2 separate regions of the Homo sapiens genome follow, and region 1 is linked to region 2. Evidence: fine-mapped expression QTL. A gene starts in region 2. The other region holds a variant in brackets. All regions are shown on one strand. Distances are from middle to middle. Region 1 overlaps CCM2 (CCM2 scaffold protein). Region 2 holds the start of CCM2 (CCM2 scaffold protein).

Evidence for each region.
Region 1: its variant is fine-mapped to the expression of CCM2 in whole blood (TOPMed, PIP above 0.99).

Annotation. Positions count from the first base shown.
Region 1 is chr7:45,025,072-45,030,449 of GRCh38, reverse strand. All of the region lies in intron 1 of CCM2 (CCM2 scaffold protein), which reads right to left. Among named protein-coding and RNA genes, the nearest start is that of CCM2, 28 kb to the right of the region's middle. RefSeq lists enhancers at 2,172-2,241, 2,844-2,893 and a silencer at 3,284-3,353. The variant T/C (reference allele first, on the strand shown) is at 2,156.
Region 2 is chr7:44,997,381-45,002,758 of GRCh38, reverse strand. CCM2 (CCM2 scaffold protein) reads right to left here and starts at 2,558. Exons shown (of 10, transcript NM_031443.4): 1 at 2,396-2,558. The coding sequence starts at 2,425. It overlaps LOC102723334 (a long non-coding RNA gene), which reads left to right and starts at 2,751. Exons shown (of 4, transcript XR_428139.4): 1 at 2,751-3,041; 2 at 3,386-3,479. RefSeq lists silencers at 2,082-2,611, 3,242-3,291.

The DNA of each region.
Region 1 (5,378 bases), 28 kb before region 2:
AACGAGGGAAATAATTAAATGGTTTAGCATATTTTTAATGTACAGAATCAGGATTCCAGTAAACCATCATGGGTTCTTTAACTCACTAGAATGTACTATAGATGGACACATAGAATTTAAAAGGTGGGATTAGCCCAGGCAACCATTCTTCATTCAACATGTATTTGATTGAGTATGCCTGTTCATCACCACTAAATGATCTTGTCACCTTTGAACCTCAGAGACCAAAGGACCAATTCAGTCCCCAGAAGGAAACCAGGCTAAGTGCTATTTCTCTTCCATGAGTGGAGTCCCAGCACCAAAGTGAGGTGTGGAGTCTATCCCAGCCTAAGTCTCTCCTGAAGAAACTGAGGCTGTGAGGGTCGAAGGGACCTGCCAGAGTCCACAGTACGGAGCCAGGAGGAGGGAACACAGGGCTCTGAGTCACCATGCAGCGCTGTGCAAAGACATCCATATGGAATATATGCCACCTCAGATAACTATACAGAACTTTCTAAACTCACTCTGGAAGATGCCTAGATCCTTACAAATTCTTACAAAGTTAACGTCTTAAGCTTAAAACAACTCTTAAAGTTGGAAACCTAAAATGTACTTCTGAGTTAAAAAACTAAAACTAAATCTGGCCTACTAGGGCTTACCTAGTGAGAATGCCCTCCTCACACAAAGCCAAGGCTCAGGCTCTGGGCAAGGCTGGCCCTCAGATGCCAACTGCGGGTCTTGAGTTTTGTTAAATCTGAAGCTCAACATTATCAGCTCACTTGGGTGAACAGGATCTGGAGTAACTGGATCTGCTCAACAAATTCTCAGAAACTAACTTATAAGTCAGGGCACCTGTTTATTAATTTACAAGGAGAAATGAATCCACTAAAAGAACCAGCAAAAGCAGACTCATGAAACAGTGGCCTCTACTTGGGGACCAAAGTAAATAGTATGGCTATACCTTCTAGCTGCATTCTCCATGCAAAACATTGAGCTCAGTATTACTCTGGAGAAAGTGCTAAAAAGTCTATGAAGGAAGAAAGAGAAGAACACTTAGTCACACTGAGCAGTACCCAGCATGTCTCTGCTACAGGGTTCAGGCATTTTCATTTGCGCAAATTATTTAACCCTTATGAATAAACTACAAGGTGGGTTTTATCTAATAAAACAAAACCGCCTCTGAACAAAGATGTTTAAAGTATTATAAAAAGGCCTAGGTATCCTTAAGGCCAACATTCAGTACATCTCATGAGTATTCACTATGCGCCAGACACTGGGGCTGTAGAAGCCACCGTCCCTGCCCCCAGGGAACCCCCAGTCTAAAGAGGGAGACAGACAAACCGCAACTGCACAGCCACATGAGGGCCCAGCAGGAATGAGGGAAAATGACTGGAAGAGGCACCAAACTCAGTGCCTGGGTCTGAGAAGACAGTGGAACCTGGAGCGATGATTCTGTCCAGCTGGACAGTGATAGGCTATAGTCCCAGAGAGACACCTGCCATCCTCATAAATCACACTGCCTAAGGTGCACATCCGAGGCACTACGACAAATCCCCTCCTACAAGCTCCATGACAAAGAACTCCTCTGTGGACACCCACATTGCACCCCTGCCTATGTGAATTTCCACAAACTTCCAGCACTCCCTGCAGTGTCAGTTGACAGATTAGCTTTTTTTTTTTTTAAGTGCTTTGGTGCCTACCAATGGAAAAAGGACCTTTCCTCGGTGCTGGAGAGGTCTAAATGATAAGTATGACACAGCCGGTGTGCACCCGCATCTCAGGACACGGCTAATTTCTTTCTTTTCTTTTTTTTTGAGCCGGAGTTTCACTCTGTCACCCAGGCTGGAGTGCAGTGGCGCAATCTCGGCTGACTGCAACCTCCACCTCCCGGGTTCAAGTGATTCTCCTGCCTCAGCCTCCCAAATAGCTGGGATTACAGGTGCGTGCCGCCACACCCGGCAATTTTTTTGTATTTTTAGTATAGACGGGGTTTCACCATGTTAGTCAGAATGGTCTTGATCTCCTGACCTCCTGATCCACCCACCTCCACCTCCCAAAGTGCTAGGATTACAGGCATAAGCCACTGTACCCGGCTGACAGAGCGAATTTCAAGGGGAACCAGAGCTCTGCCCACTACCGCCTGTTTGCTTCAGTGAGAAAGGCATAGGCACCTTAG[T/C]GCCCACAGGAGGCCACACTGGCGGTGGCCAGGATCCATGCTGGTGGAGTCTCAAGCAGAACCCCACTAGTGTTGCAGGCTTCGTGGATGAAATTCCAGCTTTGGGTGCTCTCTTGCTTGGCCATCTCCCTACATCATTTTTCAACCAGGCTCTTGGGTCCCGACCACAAATCCATAGGAAAATTACTTCTCCGTGGAAGATGTAAAACCTGTGGCTTCTTCTTCCTTGAGTCAAGATGGATGAATCCAACAACCTATACTCCCCACCTGGGTGGAACGGCACTTCTCCATACACGCCCCTTGCCACAGGGTCTCAGACCAGGAAGCCAGCAAATGAACCCTCCACCCACCCCATCCTCCCAAAGCAGGGGTCATGGAGACTGGGCTACCCTAGCTCACAATGGGCAAGCCCTGGGAAGCAGCCATGAAAGCCACCCACAAGGGACTCACACCATCATCATTCTAAATGGCGCTTTCCACACTGGACTTGCACCTACCTCATTCTCCATGGAATACCCTGTGTGAAATTCTGTTTGAGGAATTTCTTTGGAGAGATTCTGGTTCCTCCTCTGCCGACAGCTACTATGCATTCTCTACTCACTTCTGAATTTGTTGAAAAATATGGCCAGATGTTAGCCCTCCCTCTGAAAAAAACATGACTGAACAGGAAGACCAGAAACCACAGCTTCCTTCTGCAAAGCCACTGAAGCTGTTTACAATTTTTTAAAAGTTTAAAAAGCAGGCAGCACCCAGAAACTGTTGGCAAAATCCAAACAGTCTGCATGCACAAAAAGACACAAAGTAAACCAGCTCATTTTCCCTACTTCCCACAGCACGCGAACCCCACAAGCAGCCTCCCTGCATTTCCAGCAGAAATTCTGCAGTCAACAGAAGGACATTAATTTCAAAGTCCACCATTCTGCACATTCAAATGCCAAAGCTAAACAAGCAGACAGAAAGCACTGTGAGGGGCTACCATTTCCTGGAGACAACAGGCCGTGCTGTTGGTGAAGACCCATGGTACCTGCCTCATACGAAGGGTGGAAACACGCGACAAGGCTGTTCCAGTTACCCCATTTGCAGTGCTTGCTCAAAGGCAGCAAGATCTTTACAGAGATAACTCCATTCCCAGGTGGGGCTTGGGCAGGGCACACCGGGCTCTACGGGTCCTCAGCCTACAAGTGCCTCTACCTGCCTCCAGGACTCATGAGTTTGAGTCAGCAGCACTTTGAAATTAAACAGCGTGCCTCTGGCCAAGCTCACTTCTTCAAGGCAAATTTCCTAATCTAGAAAAGCAGAAGTTGGATCTGTTGCTGGTGAAGGCTCTTAGAACTCTGATAATTCCAGAATGGCTTGCAAATAGGGAGGGCTACTTAATTAAATATTCTGGTTGGCTGGGTGCGGTGGCTCATGTCTGTAATCCCAGCACTTTAGAAGGCTGAGGCAGGTGGATCACCTGAGGTAAGAAGTTCGACACCAGCCTGGCCAACACGGTGAAACCCCGTCTCTACTGAAAGTAGAAAAATTAGCCGGGCGTGGTGATGGGCACCTGTTATCCCAGCTACTTGGGAGGCTGAGGCAGGAGAATCGCTTGAACCTGGGAGGCAGAGGTTCCAGTAAGAAAAGATAGCACCATTGCACTCCAGCCTGGGTAACAGAGTGAGACTCCATCTCAAAAAAAAAAAAAAAAAAAAAAATCTGGTTAGAGTGACTATATTCACAGATCAATAAATAAACATAACAATTACAATATAATTTTTTAAATATTAGGTTGAACCAAATCAAAGTGCTGATTTTCAACAGTGTTTTGGCTATAAAAATGGTACTTTCATACAATTCTATTTCATTAACCTGTAACAAATAAAGTTTAATATTTCCTGATTCCAAAAAGACTGATTGCTTCAGAATAAAATTTAGTGCTTCAATTATTATTCCATATACCACAGATGTAGAAACTGTCATAAAGTTGGAAAAGCAGCATCAGAACTAGATTTGAGTCAATATCCGGTATTAACTGGACTGTCACTTTCTGTCTTTAAAAACCAGAGTAGAGTCACAATTTCAGATTGCTCCTTCCTAAAAGTTGCCTATACAGGGCAGAACCAGCTGACCCTGACCTTCAGGTAGGCTCAAAGGGAAAAAGGCAAACCAGGAGGGAGATACAGAAAGAGGTGCCACTCAGCTGAGCAGCCTCACCTCTATTTTGGCTACTGCAGGGAGGGGAAGGATTCCAGGGAAATAGACATGACTAAAAAGAAAACCCACATGCTCTGAACACTAGTCAACCCCAACCTTCCCTCACAAACACAGTGATCCCCACGGTCAGCATGAGAGAGAAAAGCCAAAGAACAAATGGGAAGAGACAGGCACAGGAACCTACATTCTAGCTAGTATACTTAGAGACACTTGAGAAGAACTGCATCCATAAAATAAGACTAGATAGCTATGAAAAAGAGAAAACGGCCGGGTGCAGTGGCTCCCGCCTGTAATCCCAGCGTTTTGGAAGGCTGAGGTGGGCAGATCACCTGAGGTTAGAAGTTTGAGACCAGACTGACCAATATGGAGAAACCCCGTCTCTACCAAAAACACAAAATTAGCTGGGCGTGATGGCGCATGCCTGTTAATCCCAGCTATTCGGGAGGCTGAAGCACGAGAATCACTTGAACCCAGGAGGCGGAGGTTGCGGTGAGGTGAGATCACGCCATTGCACTCCAGCCTGGGCAACAAGAGTGAAACTCCATCTCAAAAAAAAAAAAAAAAGAAAAAGAGAGAACAGAGAACAAGAAATATATCTTAGAAATTACAAATATGACTGCCAAAATAAAAAATTCGTAGAATAATAACAAGGACATAGCGGAGAGCCCAAAGAATGATGTGAAGGAGAACTGCGGGGTTGGCCAATGCCTGCCTGCTGCTGATGGCCACAGCTGCAAATGTTTTACAGATGAACATTTGCCACCAATTCGATAAAGGGAATCACCAACTTTGAACCCTGATTAAGCAAAATGTTAGCCCCCAAAAAGAATTCCATTCTCAGTAGTAGAACCATATTACAAAAAATTGTACTCAATTATTATACCTTGAATTTCATCAATAAAAAAATTTACGAAAATTTGCTTTCTCTCTTATATAAGTACCTACTTAATGGCCTCAATTTTGCCCCCTGGCCCACACAGCCTGAAATATTTACTGTCTGGTCCTTTACATGAAGTTTGCCAACCCT
Region 2 (5,378 bases):
TGTTAAACGAACCATGGCCCACTTGAGGAAACCCAGGTGTACAGTCATCATCACCACATGTGCTGAGGTGACTTGAGAAAGGGCAGTGATACACTGGGGCCAAGTTTCCGTGAGACTCACTTTGGTCCATAGGTTCTCTGCCAACTCACTGATTCCTGTGTCCTGAGGAAAATGGGCCGAGGTAAAAAAAAGCCTGAATCACTGCTTGGCAGACACCAAGACAAGTGTCTGAGATTAAAAAGAAAAAAAAAAAAAAGGCCCACCTGAGCTCAGGTGATCCTCCTGCCTCAGCCTCCCAAGTAGCTGAGACTATAGGCGAGCGCTGCCGCGCCTGGCTAATTTCTGTATTTTTTGTATAGATGGGGTTTTGCCATGTTGCCCAGGCTGGTCTCGAACTCCTGAGCTAAAGTGATCGAGCCTTGGCCTCCCAAAGTGCTGGATTACAGGCGTAGCTACCATACCCAGCCTAATTCTGCATTTTTTGAAGAAGCTAACTTAGAAGAATTTAAGCGTCCAAACTGTACCTTCATAAAACTATTGTCAGCACTTCTGCTACTTATGTCTGAATTTGTGTATAAGTTTAGAGCAATGCAATTTACCTTAATGAGAATGATTTAACCACCGAAGTTATTAAACTGGAGGTGATCTCACATTGAATGTGGTAGCTGAGCAGGAAGGTTCTGCCAGCTTGCAACTGGCAGAGTACACGAGGTAGTGTTAAGTCATGACCTGGAGAAGAATCCATGCCCCAAAGCTCCTTGTCTGGCTTGTCTACAGGAAACAAGCTAAGACAAGTGGCAGAATACAGAAAAAACACAAAACCCCTGGCTTAAGCAACTACATAACAACTGATTATCTCCTCTAGTGAGAAAATGAAATTAATAATTAACCTGTTTATGCCTAAATTTTTTCATTACCCAACTGGAAAATTCTTGATAATTTTACTGTTTTTTCACTTGTACCCCAAAAACAGTCTTACTGCTTCTCTCTCTCTCTCCCTATTTGCTGGGTGTTTCATGTTTCTACCAAAGCTGATAGACAGCTCTAGAAAAAAAAATCACTCAATTCCATCCTTGCCTATCACACACAGGTAGATGGGCCAGGTACTCCTGTAAGCGGTGCACAATGAGGTCATCAGTCCTTAGCGCGCTCTTGGATCCCGGCATTCCACAGAGCACATGGCTCACTTTCCGCAAAGCTCAGCATCATCCACACTCGGGCCTGATGGTCCCTACTAAGCAGCCACCGGGTTAGCACCTCTCCTTTCCAGCTAACTCCTTTTACACTGCTTGGCTCCTCCCTCTTCTGTGCGCAGCACGCATCTCTAATCTAACACCTGCAGGCTGAATCACTATCTTGAGCTATTTTCCAGACTTAAAACATCTTTGTAGATAACCGCAAATTATACTGCACCTAAATTAGACATGCATGGTGCTAACATGAAACAATGAGTTGAGAAAGTAGAGAACCAGCACCACAGGACTCCCTGAAGGCCACCTGGCTACATTCTATTTCAAACAGGACTTTTAAATGGGGCACTCTGTCAAACAAGGTGGTGAGTAGCTGTCAATTAAAGGACACTTCCCTGCAGAGTTCAGGGTAGTAAAATCATAGTTAGGAATTATCGAGGTCTGCTTTAAACTTGTGGATAAAAGTGCGCACACACACATCAAAAAGAAAATGATAGCCAAGACGTGAAGATTATAAAGCATTTATTTGAAAAAGATACATTTTATTAAAATCCATTTTCCACTTTAATGGTAGTTCAATCCACATCGTTTTTCCAGTCTTAAAATGTTTCTTTATCGACTACTATAACCCTTTACTGTAATTAAAGCCACATTTTGTAAAACTACATAAACTGGGGTTTGACTATGAACTATGTCCTAAATCCCACTGCCAAATGTAGCTAGCGTCACTAAAATCAATCAATGGTTTTAGGTCTGAGTGATAGTGGACGAGTGAGCTGGCCATAAGGTGAAGGCCACCCTTGCTTTTACTGGATATCCAAAAACGAAGTCCAGTGAGCAGCAAACGTCTCCACGTTAACCACACAGCCCACTAGCTCCAGTTCCAGCCCTGGACAGCTTTCTGGCCCCTCGCCGGGCCCACTTCCTCTGCAGCCCCAGGTCCCGACGCGCAGGGAAGGCCGTCTGGGGCCGAGGTCGGGGCGAGCCGCTGCCCGGGCCAGAGGAAAGGCGCGGCGCTTCCTGCCCGCCCGGCCGCGAAAGCCCACCTGACCATTGTCCGGGGTCTCGCCCTGCCCCGCCCCGCCCCGCCAGCTGGCCCACTGCCCCCCCCCCCGGGCCCCAAGGAACACCCGCCCACCCCACCCTGGCCCCTCAACCCAGCCGCCCGCCGACCACAGCAGTAGGACGCCCCCGCGCACGCTCACCTTCTTGCCCTTCTTGCCCTCCTCTTCCATATCGCCGCGTGCGGCTCCCGCGGCCCGCCCGGCCCGCCCCGGGAGCCCCGCCGCCAGCAGCCGCTACATGCTCGACCCGGGCCCGCCGCCCCCGCGCTCCCGGCGCCGCCCGCCAGCCGGGCCCGAAGTCTCCGCCCCGGCCGCGCCCCACACCCGCACTTCCGGGCCCGAGCCCCCTCCGCCCCGCCCAGGCCCCACCTTCCCCAGCGCAGGCCCCGCCCACGGTTGTCGCTCATCCTCACTTTCAGGCCCAAGGGAATCCGACCCGCAGCGATCAGACCCCGCCCCTTCAGGGAGAACACGGCCCGTTGGCCCCGCTCACGGCGAGAGCACCGCCCACAGGCTGAAGATCCTGCCCCTTCAGGACGGCCGAGAACGCGCCTGCCTTGCACCACCCCCACCCCGCCCCGCGTCCTTCAGGAGAGCCGGAAACGCTCCTACCCCTACTTCGCTTCTGCACGGCCGCGAGAACGCACCTGTCCAGCCCCCTGTTCGCTCCGCCCACTCAGCGCGCGCGGGAGCGCGCGCGGGAGCAGCTCCAACTTTTTCAATTTGCCGCCATCTTTACGGCGGCCGACTTCCCAGCCTGCCTCGCGTCCAGGGAGGCGGAGCTCAGGTCTCTGAAAAGGGGACGGGGGGCGGGGGACGGGGGACGGGGGCCGGCGGGAGGGGACGCGGCCGGCAGATGGCGAAGGAGGGGCGCGAGGAGGCGGCCACTGTTGAGGGGCGGGGCGTCCCGCCGAGAGTCTGGGTGCGGTGCGGTTTTCTTTTTTCTTGTGTCCCACTTTATTCCCTGAGCCACAGGGAATCCGTTTTCTAGTACTTCTCTGTTATAAAGTCTGCCTGCCTTAGACAAACACATTTGGAAAATAGAAGTGCAACCACAAGGATGTGCAGACCCTATCAGAATAAAATCGTAGAACCTTACCAGTCATCCGGTATAATTTCCACATTTTCCAGATGAGGTCCGGGGAATGAGGTGATTCGCCCAAAAGCACACTACAAATTGGAGTCACCAGCAGGTCTGCTATTTTGCCACTAAACCAATCTGCCGGTAAGAACTTTGTAGCACAGCTAGAATGTAAACTGTGTTTTTTTGGTGGTTTTTTTTTTTTTTTGAGACGGAGCCTTGCTCTGTCGCCCAGGCTGGAGTGCCAGTGGCGTGGATCTCGGCTCACTGCAAGCTCTGCCTCGCGGGTTCACGCCGTTCTCCTGCCTCAGCCTCCCGAGTAGCTGGGACTACAGGCGCCAGCCACCACACCTGGCTAATTTTTGTATTTTTAGTAGAGACGGGGTTTCACCATGGTCTGGATCTCCTGACCTGGTGATCCGCCCACCTCGGCCTCCCAAAGTGCTGGGATTACAGGCGTGAGCCACCGCGCCCGGCCTAATAATTCTTTATATTAAACTTTTCTTTACTGTGTTTCTGTCTCCTGACTGGGCCTATGTTATACTGATATTCAAAAGAAATACTTGGTCTCTAGACCTCTCCAAAGGCATAAGTATTCCATTCTCTGCAAGATAAAGCAGAGATAGTGGAAACACCCTTTCAATCTGCCTTCTGCAATAATCCAGCTTGCCACATTTACACACGCAAATGATGTAGCGCATCTGGTTGTCATTATTTTCCCACCATTCACAGAACAAAGGCCTGATATTTAAAGTCTTCCACCGTCTTCCACAAATGCATATTTATCACTCCATAATACAGTAAACAACACTACTAAAACTTCTCTTAGCCTAACTCTGGATGTGCTGACTTCCTCAGGCTGTTCTTATCCATCAGAATACCTTTGCCCTGTCTTTGCATACACAGGTTCATGCTTCAAGCAAAAGTCCACTGGCTAATGATCAGATGGTGATAACTGGGAATAAAGACAATAAAATGAGAAAAGCAAAAAGGCTGTTAGCTTGCTATAACAAGGGAGTCAGCCACCATCATTTGTATTTGGATGAGACTCAATGTCAGGCAGAGGAGTGGGTAAGCTTTATAGTGAAAAAAGGGAAGCCTCCAGGGATGTCCTCATTTGAGGCTGTTGGCCTGGGGAAGCAAGGGGCAGGGCATCCCAAGTGATTGGTTAGGGGCACATATTTGTCTTTCTCTGGTTGCTCCTAAGCTGGAAGCAGGACCGAAAACTAGGAAAGCTGCCAGTTTTTTTTTAATTGACAAATAATTTTTTGTTTCTTTTGTATTTTTAGAGATAAAGTCTCACTCTGTCCTTCAGGTTAGAGTGCAGTGATGCAGTCATGGCTCACTGAAGCTTCAACCTCCTGGGCTCAAGCAATCCTCCCATCTCAGCCTCCCAAGTAGCTGGGACTACAAGGACGCATCACCAAGCCTGGCTAATTTTAGTATATTTTTGTTGAGACAAGGTCACACTATGTTGCCCAGGCTGGTCTCAAACTCCTAGGCTCAAGCAATCCTCCCTCCTCAGCCTCCCAAAGTGCTGGGATTATAGGCATGAGCCATCGCACCCAGCTAACACATAATAATTGTACATATTTATGAGGTACATGTGATTTGTGTGTGTGTGTGAGGCAGAGTCTCACTCTGTCACCCAGGCTGGAGTGCAGTGGCATGATTTCAGCTCACTGCAACCTCTGCCTCCCAGGTTCAAGCAATTCTCCTGCCTCAGCTTCCCAAGTAGCTGGGATTACAGGCATGCACCACCACACCAGGCTAATTTTTTTTTTTTTTTTTTTTTTGAGACAGAGTCTTACTCTGTATTGCCCAGGCTGTAGTGCAGTGGTGCAATCTCAGCTCACTGCAACATCCACCCCCCAGTTTCAAGCGATTCTCCTGCCTCCGGAGTAGCTGGAATTACAGGTGCCCACTACCACGCCCGGCTAATTTCTGTATTTTTAGTAGAGACAGGGTTTCACCATGTTGCCCAGGCTGGTCTCGAACTCCTGGCCTCATGTGATCTGTCCACCTTAGCCTCCCAAAGTGCTG